Homo sapiens: one gene and its partners. The protein of the gene in region 3 interacts with the protein of the main gene of each other region in a pairwise test. Each region holds a gene or a part of one and is shown on either strand. Other genes may lie near its edges.

What was found.
Region 1: the proteins of UBE2U (region 3) and BFAR interact in a two-hybrid assay, tested with the Homo sapiens proteins (one large-scale study listed by BioGRID and IntAct).
Region 2: the proteins of UBE2U (region 3) and TRIM34 interact in a two-hybrid assay, tested with the Homo sapiens proteins (one large-scale study listed by BioGRID and IntAct).
Region 4: the proteins of UBE2U (region 3) and TRAIP interact in a two-hybrid assay, tested with the Homo sapiens proteins (one large-scale study listed by BioGRID and IntAct).

Annotation. Positions count from the first base shown.
Region 1 is NC_000016.10:14,663,198-14,667,770, reverse strand, and holds part of BFAR (bifunctional apoptosis regulator), read right to left. Parts: intron 2,903-4,573; coding exon 2,700-2,902; intron 137-2,699; coding exon 1-136. UniProt on the Homo sapiens protein: Membrane-bound E3 ubiquitin ligase that plays a role in several processes including apoptosis regulation or reticulum endoplasmic stress. Has anti-apoptotic activity, both for apoptosis triggered via death-receptors and via mitochondrial factors.
Region 2 is NC_000011.10:5,634,248-5,639,427, forward strand, and holds part of TRIM34 (E3 ubiquitin-protein ligase TRIM34), read left to right. Parts: intron 1-383; coding exon 384-614; intron 615-5,180. Other genes in the region: TRIM6-TRIM34 (tripartite motif-containing 6 and tripartite motif-containing 34), read left to right, coding at 384-614.
Region 3 is NC_000001.11:64,209,410-64,214,589, forward strand, and holds part of UBE2U (ubiquitin-conjugating enzyme E2 U), read left to right. Parts: intron 1-1,332; coding exon 1,333-1,430; intron 1,431-5,180. UniProt on the Homo sapiens protein: Catalyzes the covalent attachment of ubiquitin to other proteins.
Region 4 is NC_000003.12:49,845,638-49,850,817, reverse strand, and holds part of TRAIP (E3 ubiquitin-protein ligase TRAIP), read left to right. Parts: intron 1-2,617; coding exon 2,618-2,675; intron 2,676-3,209; coding exon 3,210-3,293; intron 3,294-5,180. UniProt on the Homo sapiens protein: E3 ubiquitin ligase required to protect genome stability in response to replication stress.

The sequences.
Region 1 (4,573 bases), on a different chromosome or scaffold from region 3:
AATTGGGTTAAAGTACAGGGCCCAGTAAAACAAACAGTTGCAAACAAACTGAGGGATGAGGGGCCAGAACATGGCCACAAAAAGCCCCTGCGTTGATACTTTCCAGAAATGGCTCCACATCCTCTGAGGCACGGTCCTGAAACAAGAAGAGAAGAGGCTGAATCGGAGGCGCTTCTCATGACCACACCCAGGAGTCCGGGCCCTGGGCCTTTTCTGGGTGCTGGGAAGAGCATGGCTGCCCGTGCTGAATGTCCTTGTCTTCTGTCCCCGGTGCCTGAGACCTCTGCCTACTCAACCCATCTTTTAACTCTCAAGGACATGACCTACAGGGAGCTTCTTTGCCCCCACACTGGGCAAGGCCTCCCTGTGACAGCCTCAACTTCACCTGCTTCATCACTTTGTTACATTTACATATTTTTTTTTCCTTTTGAGACAGGGTCTCATTCCTTTGTCCAGCCTGGGAGTGCAGTGGTGCAAATGTGGCTCAACTGCAGCCTTGACCTCCAGGTCTCAAGTGATCCTCCTGAGTAGCTGGGACCACAGGCACACATCACCACATCTGGCTAATTATTATTATTATTATTATTATTATTTTAAGTAGGGACAAGGTCTCGCTATGTTACCCAGGCTGGTCTCAAACTCCTCGGCTCAGGTGATCCTCCACCTCAACCTCCCGAGTAGCTGGGACTACAGGTGTGCACCACCACGCCCAGTTAATTTTTTGTATTTTTAGAGACAGGTTTTGCCACGTTGCCCAGGCTGCACTTGAACTCCTGGTCTCAAGCAATCCTCTCACCTCCCAAAGTGCTGGGATTACAGGCATGAGCCAAGGTGCCTGACCATCTATTTTTTAACGTACATATTTTCTTTGCTAGGCTGTAGGGCCTCACACTATAGACTGTCTTCTTTACCAAAAGATCTGCCATGCCCAGGAGAGAACCAGGAGTACAGTAGGGGCATAAATATGCATATTGTATATAAATAAGTGAGTTTGCTAAATGGAAAGAAATGAGGGAGATTCTTTTTTTATTTTTACCTAGTGAGTCACCATTGGAAAGGTGAGGGAGATTGTTAGGTTCTCAGAACCATTCATAAGGCTGCGAGTCAGAATGTCAAGGTAAAAGGCTGCAAGGGTGGCAGTGTTACTTCTGCCTGTCCCTTTCTTCTGGAAATAGCTTCTAAGTTTTTGGGGGTTTTTTGAGATGGACTCTCGTTTTGTCGCCCAGGGTGGAGTGCAATGGTGCAATCTTAGCTCACTGCAACCTCCACCTCTCTGAGTTCAAGCGATCCTCCTGCCTCAGCCTCCCGAGTAGCTGGGATTACAGGCACCCACCGCCACGCCTGGCTAATTTTTGTATTTTTGGTAGAGATGAGGTTTCACTATGTTGGCCAGGCTGGTCTCGAACTCCTGACCTCAGGTGATCCACCTGCCTTGGCCTCCCAAAGTTCTAGGATTACAGGCATGAACCACTGCACCTGGCAACAGCCTCTAAGTTTTGGGGATTCTCTCTCCTTTGTTCTTTTCCATGTGGTCTGGGTAGGGCTGAAACCAGCCTCTGGTTGTGGGGTGAACTCATGCCTCAAGCCTGGGTCCATCAGAACAAAGGCATGTGAGCCCTGAGACCTTTTCCAGTGCCACAGGGAAGGAAGTGCTTTCTTTCTGGAGGTTTGTTAAGCTGCACAGATCAAAGTCTGGAGTGGAGAAGACAAGGGCCCCCACATGAAGAGAGATGCCTGAGGCAGAAAACACAAGAAAGAACAGTGCTGTGAGGGACAGAGAAAGAGTCAGTACTGGTGACAGCGTTTGGGTCTCAGGGTCCAGTCATGCTTGAAGCCTAAGTTATTATTATCCTAGTTGGTTACAGATCAGGATTAGAACTCATGCCTACAGAATTTCCCATGAGATCTCTTTATGCTCTACCTTACTGCATTTTCTATAAAGCACCCTGTGGAGGCCAAAGCAACTCTATATTGGATGCTAATCTGCCATATTGACTTCTCACTAACTCCGGTTTGGGGGAAGCCTCTAAGATCTCTGGTTTTATCTAATGTTTCTTGTGTAAGAGCACGTACATCACGTAAATCCTGCCCTTTGGTGAAACAGCCTTGATGTTCTCTTACTTACCATAGATCCCGACCCTAAGCAATTGTTCTGCACATCCCTTCTGAAGCATGTATGCCCCTTCCCTATGTATACAAGCCCTGAGTCTGGGGATCCACCATCTTGTCTCGCTACCATCCAAGACACAGACAGGGCTTCTGTTGGCAAGGCCTTATTAAGTGTTTCTTTCTGAGAAACTGAATTTGCCAGCTTCTTCCTTCAGCCCCTCAGCTTCCTCTGATTTAGGGGATAGGTTTGCACAGGCCTGCCTACCTTAAAACAGACCCTTTTCTATTCAGTTGCTTATTCCTTGATTATTACAATCCTTTGCCCCCCTCCCCCTGAAATTAAATGGTATATTATTGCATAGAGATAAGACATATAGGAAAATACTTTTAACAATGAGCACCACAACCCCCACCCCCAAAACACAGGTAATTGTCCTATTCACTGCTTAAGCTAGGTTTCTCAAAGCAGAGTCTGAAGGGTCTGGGTGGATGGAGGATTTATTTCAAGTGTGAGAAATAAAAGAGGATCTTTCTCTCACTTGGTATTTCTTTCCCATCCCCTGTTGTGACAACCATTAAAACATACTTACTTCAGTTCACTTCTCGACCAGATTCTCCAAAAGGAGAATAATTCCAGAACTGAGAGTAACATAGCATTGATGATGAGAAACCGTGATGTCCAGTAATGGACCTCCAACCAGTCCCAAGCAAACTCAGCAATCAGCTGGTATGGAAGGAAGGAGTATTTGACCAGGAACTCTCTCCACTGCTTCCACGTAGGCTCCTTAAGATCCTTAAAAAATAACACACAGACGCAAAAAGTCATGAGGACTGACTTTTACACAAAATATTGTGATGATCAGGCTAGGCACGGTGGCTCACACCTGTAATCCCACCACTTTGGGAGGCCTAGGTGGGCGGATCACCTGAGGTAAGGAGTTCAAGACCAGGCTGGCCAACATGGTGAAACCCCATCTCTACTAAAAATTCAAAAATTGGCCAGACGTGGTGGTGTGTGCCTGTAATCCCAACTACTCTAGAGGCTGAGGCAAGAGAATCACTTGAACCCGGGATGTGCAGGTTGCAGTGAGTTGAGATCGCACCACTGCACTTCACCCTGGGTGATAGAGGGAGACTGTGTCTCAAAAAAAATTGTGATGATCACAGTGAGTTCTACATTGATTACCACACACACACACACATCCAACAATCTAAAATGAAATTTCCATCCATCAACTCATCTTGTAATTGTTTTTTTTTTTTTTTTTTTTGAGACGGAGTCTTGATCTGTTACCCAGGCTGGAATGCAGTGGTGCCATCTCGGCTCACTGCAGCCTCCACCTCCTGGGTTCAAGTGATTCTCCTGTCTCAGCCTCCTGAGTATGTTCTCGTACTTACCATAAATCCCGACCCTAAGCAATTGTTCTGCACATCCCTTCTGAAGCATGTATGCCCCTTCCCTATGTATACAAGCCCTGAGTCTGGGGATCCACCATCTTGTCTCGCTACCATCCAAGACACAGACAGTGCTTCTGGGATTAAAGGTGTATACCACCACGCCCGGCTAATTTTTGTATTTTTAGTAGAGACGAGGTTTTGCCATGTTGGCCAGGCTGGTCTTGAAACTCCTGACCTCAGGTGATTTGCCCGCCTCTGCCTCCCAAAGTGCTTGGATTATAGGAGTGAACCACCGCACCCGGCCGTAATTAATCTCAAATTAAGTAAATGTTAGCAAAAAGGTTGAAATGAAATGCTTGTCATATAATTGTGGAAGCTCAGAAAAAAAAAAGCATGAATTATGAATACATTGAAATAAATTTAAATTAACCAGTTATTCTCCCATCAAGCTACCCAAATGGTAGCTTGAACCATTTCCTAAATTCAACATTGGCTATGGTAGAATAATGGTAGTTTCTGGGAAAATTACAAACACTCCCTCCTCCCTCCAAAAAAAGGTAATTTTTTTTGTGATGGCAGGAGGAGAAGCTTTTCAATTACACATATTAGCAGATAAAAAATTAGCCTGATGATGGCCAGGTACAGTGGCTCACGCCTGTAATCCCAGCACTTTGGGAGGCTGAGGAGGGCGGATTACGAGGTCAGGAGATCAAGACCATCCTGGCTGACACAGTGAAACCCCATCTCTACTAAAAACACAAAAAATTAGCCGGGTGTGGTGGCGGGCGCCTGTAGTCCCAGCTACTCAGGAGGCTGAGGCAGGAGAATGGCATGAACCCGGGAGATGGAGGTTGCAGTGAGCCAAGATTGCGCCACTGCACTCCAGCCTGGGCGACAGGGCGAGACTCTGTCTCAAAAAAAAAAAAATTAGCCTGATGAACAGGCAGAGGCTGTTGGAGCTCGTTAAAATTGAAGGGCTGGGTGCCAGGTGCAGTGGCTCACGCCTCTAATCCCAACACTTTGGGAGGGCAAGGTGGGAGTAAGGGAGGAGACCACCCCTCATGTT
Region 2 (5,180 bases), on a different chromosome or scaffold from region 3:
CAGTCATGAATATCCAGGAAAGCTATCTAGAAGCTAAGCCTTATGTTTTATATTTTGTCTCAGGGTTGGCCTAGATAAGACAGTTTGAGGTCATTGTTTTGGTAGGTACTGAAAGGAAAATAGTAGGAAAAAATAGCTTCCCTCCAAGTACCTCTATTGCTTCTACTCCCTTGCTGATTTGAACTCCCTGAAAAAAAAAATCGATATATAGATAATACAAATATATATATACAGATAATATAAATACACACACACACACACACACACACACACACACACACACATATATATATATATATATTTCCCTACTGGCTCCTAATCCCTTGCACAATAGGCCTTAGCCTGACAAACTTACTACAACTCTCTCTTGTCCATCCTTGCAGTATCAGGTACAAACTGAGAGACAAAGGATACAAACAGAATTTGATCAGCTTAGAAGCATCCTAAATAATGAGGAGCAGAGAGAGCTGCAAAGATTGGAAGAAGAAGAAAAGAAGACGCTGGATAAGTTTGCAGAGGCTGAGGATGAGCTAGTTCAGCAGAAGCAGTTGGTGAGAGAGCTCATCTCAGATGTGGAGTGTCGGAGTCAGTGGTCAACAATGGAGCTGCTGCAGGTAAGAAGGTTCGCTCAATCTGAGATTCTGGGAACACAGTTCCCTCCTGTGTCCTTGCGTTCTCATCCTGGTGGTGACACTAAGGGGTTTCTTTGGCCTTGCAGTGCCGCCTTGTCGTCCATTCTAGATGTCATGGACATGAATGACATTTTTATTAATTTATGAAGTAAGGGAATACATTTTACCTTGCAGAAAAGATCCATTATATCTAGTTATAGTCTCTAGGCCCCTATTATATGTGATCTAGTGTCAAGCATTCATCAGACTTCTCTTTACTCTGGTTAGTCACAGGTAAACACATGCATTTTCAGGTTTAAGAGCATACACATTTAAGAAATGTGTTCTATTTAAGTTTAAAATATGCTTATTTGTTATGCAAATGTTCCCTGTTAATTTTTTTTTTTTTTTTTTTGAGACGGAGTCTCGCTCTGTCTCCCAGGCTGGAGTGCAGTGGTGCGATCTCGGCTCACTGCAAGCTCCGCCTCCCAGGTTCACGCCATTCTCCTGCCCAGCATCCCGAGTAGCTGGGACTACAGGCACCCACCACCACGTCTGGCTAATTTTTTTTGTATTTTTAGTAAACATGGGGTTTCACCGTGCTAGCCAGTATGGTATTAATCTCCTGACCTCGTGGTCCGCCTGCCTCGGCCTTCCAAAATGCTGGGATTACAGGCCTGACCCACCGCACCCAGCCCCCTGTTACTTTTTTTTAAACATAAAGTGATAGAATATTGAGCCTTTTGGGGAGAAAGATGGACAAATATATAGACAGACAGTGCTCTCCTTTCTTTGCTGAATTTCCAAATATTTCCTTTTTAAGATTTGGAACGAAGCAGGAGAGTAACTGATTTTCATTTGTTGAATTGTTTGCTTTGTCTCTGGTGCTTATATCCCAGCTTTTTTTAAATTCCTTTTTCCTTTTGTCTTCTTTTTTTGTTTAAATTTAAGATTACTCTGGAACAGAGGTTCCTAAACGTATTTTACACTCATTAGTATGGCTATAATAAAAAAAGATGGACAATACCAAGTGTTTGGGAAGATGTGAAGAAATTGAAACCTTCTTGAATTGCTAGTAGAGATGTAAAATAGTAAAGCTACTTAGGAAAAACTGCTTGGCAGTTGCTCAGAAATGTAAAGAGAGTTCTCATGTGGCCTAGCCATTCCATTCCTACCTATATACCTAGAAGAACTGAATACATATATTTGTGCATAAACTTATATATGAAAGTTCACAGCAGTATTGTTCATAAATAAAACAACTCGTATCTCCTTAAACTGATGATTGGATAAGCAAAATGTGTTATATCCAAACAATGTAATATTGTTTAGCTGTGAAAAATAATGAATTAATAATACATGCTATGACATGGATGCACCTTGAAAACATTATAATTGAAAGAAGGCAAACACAAGTTCTTTTTTGTATGATTCCATTTATATGAAAGTCTGTAAGTAGCAAATCCGTAATATAGAAACTAGATTAGTGGTTGCCAGAGCTCTGGGGAAGAATAGGAAGTAATTGCTAATTAGTGTACAATTTCTATTTGTAGTGATGAAAATGATCTGGATTTACTGTGCAATGACGGTTGCACTACATCGTGAATATTTTAAAGCCTGTTAAATTGTGCACTGTAAAGGGCAAATCTTATGGTATTTGAACTACATCTCAGTAAAAACAAAAACAAAAAGGTTCCGTAGGCCCTTTTTTATGGTTCTTCCTTAAGCTCTTCACAACCCTTTGAATCGCCACCTTCACAAAAGAACACTGTGTTTATGTCATTTGTCCAGGCATTTGTCCTATTTCAGTCAGTCTTAGTTGCTATTTGGTCACTTGGAATTTAAAAAAATATTGGTAGATCAAAAATTATAAATGCTGTGGGATTAACATTTCACTTCTAGATGTTAGCTTCAAAGAATGGCAAATGGAAAACTTAGGAACTTATTCTTTTATCTGAGTAGGGACTTTGGCTATTCCTCTCCAATATGTTAAGATATAATCTGTTGGCGGGGCGCGGTGGCTCACGCCTGTAATCCCAGCACTTTGGGAGGCCGAGGTGGGTGGATCACGAGGTCAGGAGATCGAGATCATCCTGGCTAACACAGTGAAACCCCGTCTCTACTAAAAATACAAAAAATTAGCCGGGCATTTTATAATATACAAAAAATTAGCTGGTGATGGCGGCTGCCTGTAGTCCCAGCTACTCAGGAGGCTGAGGCAGGAGAATGGTGTGAACCCAGGAGGCGGAGCTTGCAGTGAGCCAAGATGGCGCCACTGCACTCCAGCCTGGGCGACAGAGCGAGACTCAGTCTAAAAAAAAAAGATATGTGCTGTTGTATTTGTGGTATGTCTCCTCCACAATCCCATCTCCTGAGAGTCCCTGTAACAGCTTTCTTTCTATATGGATTCTCATGATGGCGATCGGGATGGATGGTGTTATCATATATCCATTGTTTGTTTGCTAGAGGGACTGATACTCATTTCGTAAGAGCTGCATTCAACACTTACTGCCAAAGAACGATCTAGACAGAAAGACGCTCAACTTGAAAACTGATGCAAAAATTAGATGAGATTTTAGGTTGTTTCCCTTATAAAGGAGATACTTTGATTTTTAATGCTTTCTGTAATAGTTTTATTATATTTGGCCATTTTTATTTTTGAAAGGATGGAATGGTAGGTAGCTAAATGAGGGAAAGAAGATGGCAGTTACTATTATTTAAAATTTTTTTTCCAGGTTTCTTAAAATTTTAGATTCAGGGGGCACATTCAATTCCATGGCATTTAGTACATTCAGATTGCTGTGCAACCATTAAGTGGGATCCCTCTCTGGACTTTTTCACCATCCCAAACTGAAACTGTACCCATTAAAAAACAGCTCCCCATTCCCTTTGGTCACCACTGCTCTACTTTGATAACCACTATTCTACTTTCTGTCTCTATGACTTTGCCTATTCTAAGTACCTCATGTAAGTGGAATCATAGAATATTTGTCCTACAGGTTTCTTATAAGGGTCTGTTGCATAATGCTAGGGTTTGGGCTACATGGTACTCATTATTTTTGTTTCGTCAATATCCATTCCCCATTTTTCTGGTAATAACACCTGGAATTACTCTTGCAAGAAAGACTAGCATGTCTATTTCCATCCTTGTACTTGTTTAGACCTGAGAAAATCAGCACTATCAAGAATGAATGAGTTAATTATATGTAAATCAGCGTATCCAATCCTTACATCCCTACCAGCCACACAGTGATTATTTTAAGTTGGACATCTGACCCAATCCTGAATGCTTGTGGGTGACAAAATTGTACTGTCATTGCAGTGAAGGGAAGTTCTCCTTTTTAGCAGAAAATAATATCAGTGAAGATAATTCAAATAAAGAGATTCAAGTTGCTATCAACTAAAATCTGAGAATACAGTCAAAATATAGGGAAGAAATGAGAATTAATAGGCACAGAGAGGCCAGAATTGTGACAGAGGTTTGAGCTTCCAGAGCCATCTGTGACTAAAGTAATACCTCTCTGGCCACAACCCTTACTTTCTTCCCAGTTAAGGCAATTTTAGTTGTTGAACAACAAAACTATGCTAATACAGAGAGCAAAACCATTTATTTGGTTGTACACCAGCTGGTGTCATGAAAGAGTTAAAGCCAAATATATTGGTACATCTTGCTCAAAACAAATTAACCCACAGTGGTGATGATGGGGGAATGCAGATGACTAACAGAAGTTAAGGATGGACTGGCTTGATAAAATGTTTTAGTGTCTGGGACAGGGACTGAGTGAATATTGATACCAGTTTGACAATACGGCATAAGAAAGGAAACAATATGGCTGGAGAACAGCTTATGTTTTAGATATTCTTAGTTACTGGTGCCGTTTTTTCTTCTTTGTGGAATGTAGTATTGTACCTGTACAGAATGAAGTCTAGCTGCTTTTTTTCACAGTCCAATGAGATGCAGACAGACTTGGAAAAGAAGGGAGTTTATTTTTGCAACTGGTTACAGGGAGAAGGTCAGAGTAACTATCAGACCAACTCAGAGTTACAAAGTTTTTTTTTTCTGGTGCTTATATACATTTTAAGCTCTATGCCTTCACGTGGGAGTGCACCTACATGCAGGAGTGTTTCAATCTATATCTATCTTTAACTAGGGTCTGGGGTCTAGAAAGCTTTCTCTAGAGTCTTGGAAAGTTTCTTAATCTTAAATGGGCCCTGGTACAAGTTGTATGTCTAAGAATGCTTTTATTATTCGATCAGACTTTAAGGTATGAGAAAACCCAGGCAGGGTCTTTAAAGGGTTTGTTTTCACATTTCAGCCCTGGTACTCACTCAGGCACCAGCTTTTCCAGTTCTTTAATGTTTAACTTACGCATTCATCAAAATTATAGTAAAGGGTTAAGGGAAACTGATTGTTCTGGTTGCTAATGGAAACCTGACCTGCCACAGTATTATAGAAACATGATTACAGACAAAAGACAATGATTAGATATAAAGGTTGACAAAAAACAGCACCTATGTGTGAGCTAAAATTAAGATTGGAGGCCAGGCGCGGTGGCTCACACCTGTAAT
Region 3 (5,180 bases):
TCAACACTCTCTCCTTCTGACCATACTGGGTATAGTCTCTTTTGCTCCAGGCAGGAAACTTAGGCAGGCCTTCGGTTTGGGAGTTAAGTTTAAATCAGGGGGACTTTTGTGGAGCCTGATTAAAGCCATTCATCAAGTGCGTTCTCCATTTCAGTCTTATGTGCAATGAAGCTGATGTTTTTACTTCCACCTTTCAATACTTTGATCTATTTTATAATTACATATGAACTTGAGGGGAGAGAAGGGTTATTTACTAGCTTTCAACCCCCGCCCCCGCCCGCCCCGCAAAAGATGGCTATGTACAGTTTTAAGTCTTTATATAAAAAGCCAAATTGCCTTTCGGTGGTATTTGTACTCCTACCAAAAAGTACATATAAAGTTCTTATTTTAGCACCTTCCAATTCTGGCCATTGAAACTTTGAAGAAAATTTTTTTGCCAATTTGGTAAGAGTCTTGCTATTATTTTAATAAGCACTTCTTTGAATACTTGAGAAGTAAACATTTCCCACCTTTGTTGATTCTTATTTTGTGACTCGTATGATACAATTGACAGTGCTATCACATTGTCCTAGATGTTGCAAATATTTCCTCTAATTTGTCATTAATTTTCAACTTTGTTTATGCTGTTTTTTCACATCTGGGATTTAGAGATTTTTATGATTTAAAATAAATTTATATTTAAGATCTATTAATCTTGTCCTTTGAGGCTTTTGCAGTTGTCTTTCATCTTAGATGATCCTTTCCCAAAAGAAAATCAAATAGTCATTTTAAGTTTCTTCTAGTCATTCTACAGTTTTATTTTTCTTATTTAACTCTATTATTTTTTCAAACACTAAATTACTTAACTGTGTTAGGGCATATGCCAAGCTCCTGTACATCTTTCCAACTTAACATAACAGGACAACGCTGGAGGGAGGTTGTGCCCATCCTCAATGTGAAGATTCCATTTCTGGGACTAAGGCATTTACTGTTTGTCACCATTTCCAGTCTGGGGGAAGGGGGAAGAAAAGAAGGAAAGCCAGCTTCCTTTAAAAAAAGACTCAGAAATTGCACACTTATCCTTATGTCCCACAACAAAAACTTAGTCACAAGGCCACATCTTGCTAAAGGAGAGGATAGGAAAAACTGTAGGGGCACCTATGTATTCAGCTAAAACAACATGGTAATGGGTGGGAACCAGGGATGGGTATAGTGCTTCTCAGTACAGAGAGAAGAACTAGGAAAAAGGAAGAGTAAATGCAGATAATTTTTCTGGCTTATCATTTTGATGTTTGTAAGTTTTAAATAATAATTTATTATAAATGCAAATATTAATGTATTATTTTAATACAGTAGACCCACACACTGGTCAGCCCTGTATAGACTTTTTGGACAACCCTGAGAAGTGGAATACAAACTATACATTGAGCAGCATCTTACTTGCCCTACAGGTAAGAATGGATTTCATATAATCCTCTCTTTAATACTTTTAATTACCCTAATTATTCAAACTACAAGGATTAAAATATACAATGCATATTTAAGTGTTTAAAGAATTTGAGAAGTTTATTTAAATCCATACTTCTATATGAAGGCTACAAAGTGGAACTTACTTAAATTATAAAAACTATTATTTAAAGTGAAATTGATAGTTAAGGCCCCTCAAGACCAAAGAATGCATATCTTATAAAAGAATAAAATAATTATTTAGATGGTTTCAATTCTGAAAATATAACCTTAGGTTTTCTTTTGGTTCCTAACTTCACTTCCTGATGTTGAGCAAGCCTTTTAGATCTTTCTTCATTTATGGACCTTGCCTTCCTGAGAGAGGTGGATCGAATGACTACAACTTAAAATGTTCACTTTTGTTTTTTGTTTCTGACAGTGCTAGTTAGCTACTTTCTGTCCCAATAGTGTTCACATCAAACCCAGTGAACAATTTATACCAAGGATTTTCTCCTCTCCTCAGATGCCTGTTTCTCAGATGCCACCTTTACCCACTGGACCCATGGTCCTTAGAAGCATACCTCAGTGTTGTGCTATTTCTTTTCTTTTCTTTTTTTCTTTTTGAGACAGGATCTTGCTCTGTCACCCAGGCTAGAGTGCAACGGCACAATCCTGGCTCACTGCAGCCTCAACCTCCTGGGCTCAAGTGATCCTCCCACCTCAGCCCCTCAAGTAGCTGGGACCACCGGCATGCCCTACCATGGATGGCTAATTTTTTAAATTTTCTGTAGAGACGGGGTCTCACTATGTTGCTCAGGTTGGCCTCAAACTCCTGGGCTCAAGCAATCCTCCCACCTCAGCCTCCCAAAATGCTGGAATTACAGGCAAGAGCCACCACATCCACCCAGTGTTGTGTTATTTCTGGTCCTTAAAAATGCCTCCTTTCTCATCTAATGCTAAAATGAATTATTTCAGTGAACTTGCTTTGACCTCTTAGAGCTAGCTTAGCAATAATCTATCCATGACCTACTTATCACCAATAATATCTGAAGATAAATAATTACATTTTGATTATCTAGAATACTTGGAATATAAAATACTCTGGCATAATTGAGTTTTTAAATATAGAATTATAATATAAATTGCATTTCTTCTATTTCTTGTATTTGAAAATAAATAAAATAATACTTTCCTGGCTAGTCATCTTAGCATACTAAGTAAAATATAATCTTTAGGAAAGATTCAATGTTCAGTTCATTCATTCATTCTACAAATATGTATTGAGGATCTACTTGTGTGAGGTTGTGTTCTAGGAAGGAGACATTTGAGCAAAAAATTTAAGGGAGTGAGTGAGTGTGATATGCAGAAATCTGGGGTTAATCCTTTGGATTCCTTTAAACTGAGACATATTCTGATCTCATCCACCTAAACTAGAGTCTGCCCTAAGAATAGCAAAATGATCCCAAAATGTAATGAGTAAGGGCAAACCAGAATGAACTGGTGAAAATTTTGAATTGCAGAATAATTTGATAAAAGGAAAATGTGGGGCTCTGAGTTAGCTTGCTTGGCTTCACATCCTGGTTCTGCCACTTGATACCTTTGTATCTATCATTGGACAAATTTTTCCACTTCTCAATGTCTCAATTTCTTCATCAGTAAAATGGGGCTGTTGTTACCTCATGTAACCTGTGAGGAGGAAATTAATTAATGTGTGTAAAGAATTCGGAACTGTGCCTGGTCCAAGAAAATAACTCAATAGTTAATACAGGTCGAGTATTTCTTATCTGAAATGCTTAGGAATTGGAAATTTTTCCAATTTTTGAATATTTGCATTACATATACTTACCATTTGAGCATCCCAAATTTGAAAATTTGAAATCTGAAATACTCCAGTGAGCATTTCCTTTGCACATCATGTCGGTCCTCAAAAAGTTTTGAATTCTGGGGTATTTAGGATTTCAGATTTTCAGATTTAGGATGCTGAACCTCTAGTTAGTTAACATTATGATTGTTCTTACTATTAAAGAGTAATGCAAAGTGACACCAAAGTGTTGCCAAATATATCATGGAAAGCCAGTAGATAACACAATTTTGTCTTTTTATTTTTCGAAAACATTAATAAAACAAATATGCCCACATTACAAAAGATTTTTAAGATAATGGGAAGGAAAAGAAAATCACTGACAATTATAAAGAAAACCCTTAACTTTACTGTTACTAGGAAAGAGCTTTCTGCTCTTTTCTCCTGTTTTTCAGTTTAAAATCTTTCAGTGGATCCCACCTTCTCCACAGGTGTAAGCTCTAGTTCTGTTGCATATCTAATCCTCACACCTAGACTCTCCCTAACACACCAGGCAATCCTGCTCATACTTATATCTTCATGCTTTTCTGCACTCACATTGCTTGGGTCAATTCAGATAAAAAAAACATTCATAGAGTTCTAAAGTTACCTTAGAAATGGTCAGTCTCCAGTTCCCCTCTGCCTGGCAACTCATTTTCTCCTCTTCTCTTCCTCAGTCTGTCCAGCAAGCAGTTGTTCATGTTGTTGTAAGAGTTGGAACAAATGAATCGTCCTCTAGGATACCTTTTCTGATTTATTTTCCTAGGGAGAATTAATAGCTTTGGTTTTGGGGGAGCTTCCTTTGCTACACACCCAACAGTACCCTGAGCAGATTTCTGTTAGAACACTAATACTATAAAGCACACACTGCTTACTTATCTGTCTTCCCCTATTGGACTGCAAGCTCCCCAAAATCAGGAAACAGGTCTAATTCATCCTTGATTTCCTGGAGCATACCAAAGACAATGCTGACATTTGGTAGATATTAAATAAAATGAATGAATGAATGAACCTGAATTTTTACATTATTGCTATTATGGTATGTATATTGCCATGTGCTTAGCAACAAGGATACATTCTGAGAAATGAGTTGTTACACATTTCATCGTTGTTTGAAAATCATGGAGCGTACTTACACAAACCAAGATGGTATAGCTTAATACATACGAAGGCTATGTTATAGCCTGTTGCTCCTAGGCTACAAACCTATACAACATGTTACTGTACTAAACACTATAGGCCATTGTAACACAATGGTAAATATTTGTGTATCTAAATATAGAAAAAGTACAGTAAAAATTTGGTATTATTATCTTATGGGACCACCATGATATATGCCGTCTGTTGTTGAGTGAAACATTGTTATGTGGCACGTGAGTATGTAAACTATACAGCCTGTTTCTTTTTCACTTAACATTGTCTCTCAAGTAACTTCCATATGGTTATAATCAATATTTTAATAGCTATTCAGTATTCCTTTGAAGGTCAGTGCTGCGCAGTAGCACTTTCTGCATTGATGGAAATGTCCAATATATCTCACCGTTCAATACAGTACCTACTAGTCATATGTGGCTACTGAGCACTTGAAATGTTACCACTGTGACTAGGGAGCTGAATTTTTAATTTTATTTAATTTTAATTATTTTAAATGTAAATAACCACCTGTGACTGTGCCTACAGTGATGGGCAATACAAGTTGAGACCATAATGACTAACTACTTCTTTCTTGATAACAAATTAGATACATTTTCAATTATCACACTGTTATTCAAGGGAAGTGTACTTGAAATGTTGGTTAAAATATTTTGAATTTTAAATACACTAACCACCATCAACTAAAATTTTTATAATCTTAATTTAAATTCAATGTAAATGTATATGCTAGGAAGGAACAAGTTACAGAAAGGAACTTGTA
Region 4 (5,180 bases), on a different chromosome or scaffold from region 3:
CTGGGCATGGTGGCGTGCACCCGTAACCCCAGCTACTCGGGAGGCTGAGGCAGGAGAATTGCTTGAACCTGGGAGGTGGAGGTTGCAGTGAGCCGAGATCGTGCCACTGAACTCCAGCCTGGCTGACAGAGCAAGACTCTGTCTCAAAAAAAAAAAAAAAAAAAAAATGCAGACTATTATCAGCTCTAGAAACCTTCTAGAAACCTCCTTATATGCTCTTCCAACCCCTACCAACACCTCCCTCCACCTCCCCATATTAAGATAGCTACTGTCTTGACTTTGAGAGCATAGATGAATTTTGCCTACTTTTTTTTTTTTTGAGACAGAGTCTCACTATGTCCCTCACGCTGGAGTGCAGTGGCGTGATCTCGGCTCACTGCAACCTCCACCTCCCAGGTTCAAACGATTCTTCTGCCTTAGTCTCCCAAGTAGCTGGGATTACAGGCGTGCGCCACCACACCCGGCTAATTTTTCTATTTTTAGTAGAGACGGGGTTTCACCATGTTGGTCAGGCTGGTCTCAAACTTCTGACCTGATGATCCACCCGCCTCGACCTCCCAAAGTGCTGGGATTACAGACGTGAGCCACTGGGCCTGGCCTGCCTACTTTTAAACTGTGTAAATAGAATCATACAAAATATAACTTTTTGTATCTGGCTTCTCTTCCTCAGTGTTATGTTTTTGTGATTTATTCATAATATTGTTCTTAGCTGTAGACTCATTTATTCTTGCTGTGTAGTATTCCACTGCGCCTGGTTACTCTTGATTATATGTTGTACATGGTATTTGAAAACTTATGGGAATTTTAGCTGGGCATGGTGGTGCACGCCTGTGGTCCCAGCTACTCGGGAGGCTGAGGTGGGAGGATTGCTCGAGCCTGGGAGGCGAAGGTTGCAGTAAGCCAAGATCACACCACTGCGCTCCAGCCTGGGTGACAGATTGAGACCCCATCTCAAAAAAAAAAAAAAAAAAAAAAAAGAAAAGAAAAGAAAATGTACTTATAGGAATCTTTGAGGCCAGGATGATGGTATCATTTTCCAGAGAGGACTTAGTTTCTCCCTGGTCCCTAGGAGTAGGGGAGTCTACTAGTAGGAGACTAATTAAAGTTTAAGGCTTGAGCTTTGCTGGACCACCTGCATAGATGATGCAAAGCTCAGCTGTGTTTTGCTTTTACCACTACTTACTTTTTTTTTTGAGATGGAGTCTCGCTCTGTCGCCCAGGCTGGAGTGTAGTGGCACAATCTCAGCTCACTGCAATCTCCGCCTCCCAGGTTCACACCATTCTCCTGCCTCAGCCTCCCGAGTAGCTGGGACTACAGGTGCCTGCCACCACGTCCGGCTAATGTTTTGTATTTTTAGTAGAGATGGAGTTTCACCATGTTAGTCAGGATGGTCTCAATCTCCTGACCTTGTGATCTGCCCGCCTCGGCCTCCCAAAGTGCTGGGATTACAGGCGTGAGCCACTGCGCCCGGCCACTCTTTTTTTTTTTTAATTAAAAAAATTTTTTTGATTGGGCACAGTGGCTTATACCAATAGTTCCAGCACTTTGGGAGGCTGAGGTGGGAGGAGCACTTAAGCTCAGGAGTTGAGACCAGCTTGGGCAGCACAGTGAGACCCTGCCTCTATTCTGTAAAAAACAAAAAAACAAAAAATTTAATTTAAAAAAATTTTATGGCTGGGTATGGTGGCTCATACCTGTAATCCCAGCACTTTGGGAGGCTGAGGCAGGTGGATCACTTGAGGTCAGGAGTTCAAGACCAGCCTGGCCAACATGGTGAAACCCTGTCTCTACTAAAAACAAAAATTAGCTGGGCGTGGTCGCGCATGCCTGTAATCCCAGCTACCTGGGAGGCTGAGGTAGGAGAATCGTTTGAACCAAGGAGGCGGAGTTTGCAGTGAACCAAGATCGTGCCACTGCACTCCAGCCTGGGCGACAGAGCAAGACTCCACCTCAAAAAAAAAAAAAAAGTTATGAGTACATAGTAGGTATACATATTTATTGGGTTTATGAGATATTTTGATGCAGGGATACACTGTAATAATCACTTCAGGGTAAACAGAGTAGCCATCACCTCAAGCATTTATCATTTTTTTGTGTTACAAACATTCCTATTCTTTTAGTTACTTTAAAATGTACAGTAGATTATTGTTGACTGTAGTCACTCTGTTGTGCTATCAAATACTAGATTTTATTCCTTATATCTAACTTTATTTTTGTACCCTTACTTACTTTTATTTCTGGTTGATCCTTACCTTGAAAGTGTAGTCTTTGGGATTCCAGCTTAAAATGGGGGTGTTATCAGAGTCCTCATCTCTGAGGGCCCCTGAGCTTCGACTATCATCTCTCCCAACCCCAGTCAAAGCCCAGAATGTTGCCTAAAGGACAGCTTTTGGCCAAGCCAACAGGGCCAAAAAAAGGGCCAGCTGGTTGGAGTCCTGAGTACCCATCAGGCCTTGCGGGAGGTGCTGTAACTGCCTATGCTACTGTCCTCTTATTTGGGCAGGCATTGGGTCAAGGAGGAGCAGAACAGACCCTTTCGTGGTCAGAATGTTTGCCTGGCTTATGTCCCCAGACAAACCAGGGCTCATCAGTCTATTGTTCTGCTTTTCATTCCAGCCTAATTCAGTGGTTTGAGACAGCACCAAGTCGGACCTGCCCACAGTGCCGAATCCAGGTGAGAGTATTGGGGTGGGACCACCTCAACTGAAGAGATCTCCTTAGCAGAGAGCAGGAATGTGAAAAGAGCTCTGAAACTGCAATATCTCTGACCTTTTTTGGACCCTCCTGGTTTAAGGCCAGTTGAGCCTCACTTGTGCCCTTGAGTGTTTGGGAGGTCTGCTTACACCCACAGGTAGCTGGCAGATGGACTTGTTGCCTGGGCCAGTTTTCACTTGGGTAGATTTGGCTGGCCTCCTTCCCTGTCTTTTCATCAGTGACTCCGCACCTAGAGTTCAGGTATCTTTTGAGCACTTAACCGTGTAGGTCTGTAGTAATATGACTTCAGTGACCACGAAACCAGCAGCCCCAACTTGGGGTACCTGCAGGAGTAAAGAGGTCTTTTGACTCTAAAGGATGTACTTTGAAAAATTAGGTCTGAGAACAGGCCTGACATGCATGTCAGGCAGGTAGTCAGACCCATGTACAACACTCTCCTCCTTGCGCATGACCCAGCTACACAATCATACTCTTACCTTGTTCTCCCATCCAGGTTGGCAAAAGAACCATTATCAATAAGCTCTTCTTTGATCTTGCCCAGGAGGAGGAGAATGTCTTGGATGCAGAATTCTTAAAGGTACCCAGAATTTATCTGATTCTACTGAACTCCAAGCCTTGTGCGAGTTCACTTTTCTTTTTTCTTTTCTTTTCTTTTTTCTCTTCTCTTCTCTTCTCTTCTCTTTTCTCTTTTCTTTTCTTTTCTTTTCTTTTCTTTTTTTAGAGACAGGGTCTTACTTTGTTGCCCACACTGGAGTGCAGTGGTGCAATCATAGCTCACTATAACCTCAAACTCCTGAGTTCAAGGGATCTCCCCACCTCAGCCTACCTAGTAGCTAGGACTGTAGGGGTGCACCACCATGCTCGGTTAATTTTTTTATTTTATTTATTTATTTATTTATTTATTTATTTATTTATTTATTTTGAGATGAAGTCTCACTCTGTCACCCAGGCTGGAGTGTAGTGGCGTGATCTTGGCTCACTGCAACCTCTGCCTCCTAGGTTAAAACAATTCTCCTGCTTCAGCCTCCCGAGTAGCTGGGACTACAGGCACGTGCCACCATACCCGGCTAGTTTTGTGTTTTTAGTACAGACGGGGTTTCACCTTGTTGGCCAGGCTGGTCTCGAACTCCTGACCTGAAGTGATCCACCCACCTCGGCCTCCCAAAGTGCTGAGATTGCAGGCGTGGGCCACCGTGCCCAGCCCTAATTTATAAAAAAAAATTTTTATAGAGATAGGGCCTTGCTATGTTACCCAGGCTGGTCTTGAACTCTTGGGCTCGAGCAATCCTCCCACCTTGGCCTCCCAAAGGGCTGAGATTACAGGCATGAGCCACTGTGCCTGGCCTGGGAGTTCACTTTCTATTTCCACATAAGTGGAGGGTTCCTGGAATATGGAGATGAAGTTATAGAGGTGAGACTTGGTACAGTTTTCAAGGTGGGGACACAAAAATCAGAGGACAACTGATGAGACACAGTCATCAGAGAAATGCACTGTGAGGGAAGAGGGGAGCTGCTTGACTGTAAACCCTCCCTTTGGGATTTCAGGTCAATTCCAACCTGAATTCTCTCCTGCGGTCTTGTCTCCTCATCTTTTAAAGAACCTACAGCCATCCTGTACAGCCTACTTTGCTGCTTGGACAGTTAGTGACAGATTAGAAAACTCTTCTACTCCCCAGCCACGGGAGATTTTTGGATTCAGTGTTCCCTAGCCTGCCTGTGCCTCAAAATTGCCTGGGGAGGCTGGGCGTGATGGCTCACACCTGTAATCCCAGCACTTTGGGTGACCAAGGTGGGCAGATCACTTGAGCCCAGGAGTTCAAGACCAGCCTGAGCAACATGGGACCCCATCTCTATTAAATAAAAAAAGTTAAAAGAAAAAAAATTGCCTAGGGAGCTTGGTATAAAGTCAGATGCCTGGGCCTTCCCCAGACCAGAGCTCTTGGAATCAAGAGTTGCAGCTCAGGTGGGAATGGATATATTAGGGGAAAGTGGGTAGTTTCCCTCCTATACGTCTAACTGCTTCCCCTCCTAATCTAAAATTTAGCTTTTTTTGTGTGCAAGCAGGCTGCGTTGGCAGAGAACTCTTGAGGAAGTTGGATTTGGGTTCACAAATGATCCCTGGACTCTGAGGGTTAATTTGCTGGATATCTGTCAGATCAGAGTTCATTTGGCTCTGGCCCCAGGGTGTCATGATGTCCTTGGAACCTCACTGCTTCAGGAACATGGAGCTTTTGTGCTTAGAGCAAGCATGTTCATCGTCATGGTAACTGCTCCCAGTTTTAAGTAGTGTCTTCCCTGTGATGAAGGCAACAAAGGCAGTTTCATTTATTTCCAGCTTTCAAAGCCAGGTTTGTGAGACAGGTAGCAACATCTTGGGTAGTTTGGAGCAAGGGCTTGGAAGCCCCTGCTGGAGTGTGGAAGAAGTCAGGGGACTATGGGTAGTGGTGCAGCAGCCATGTCCTGG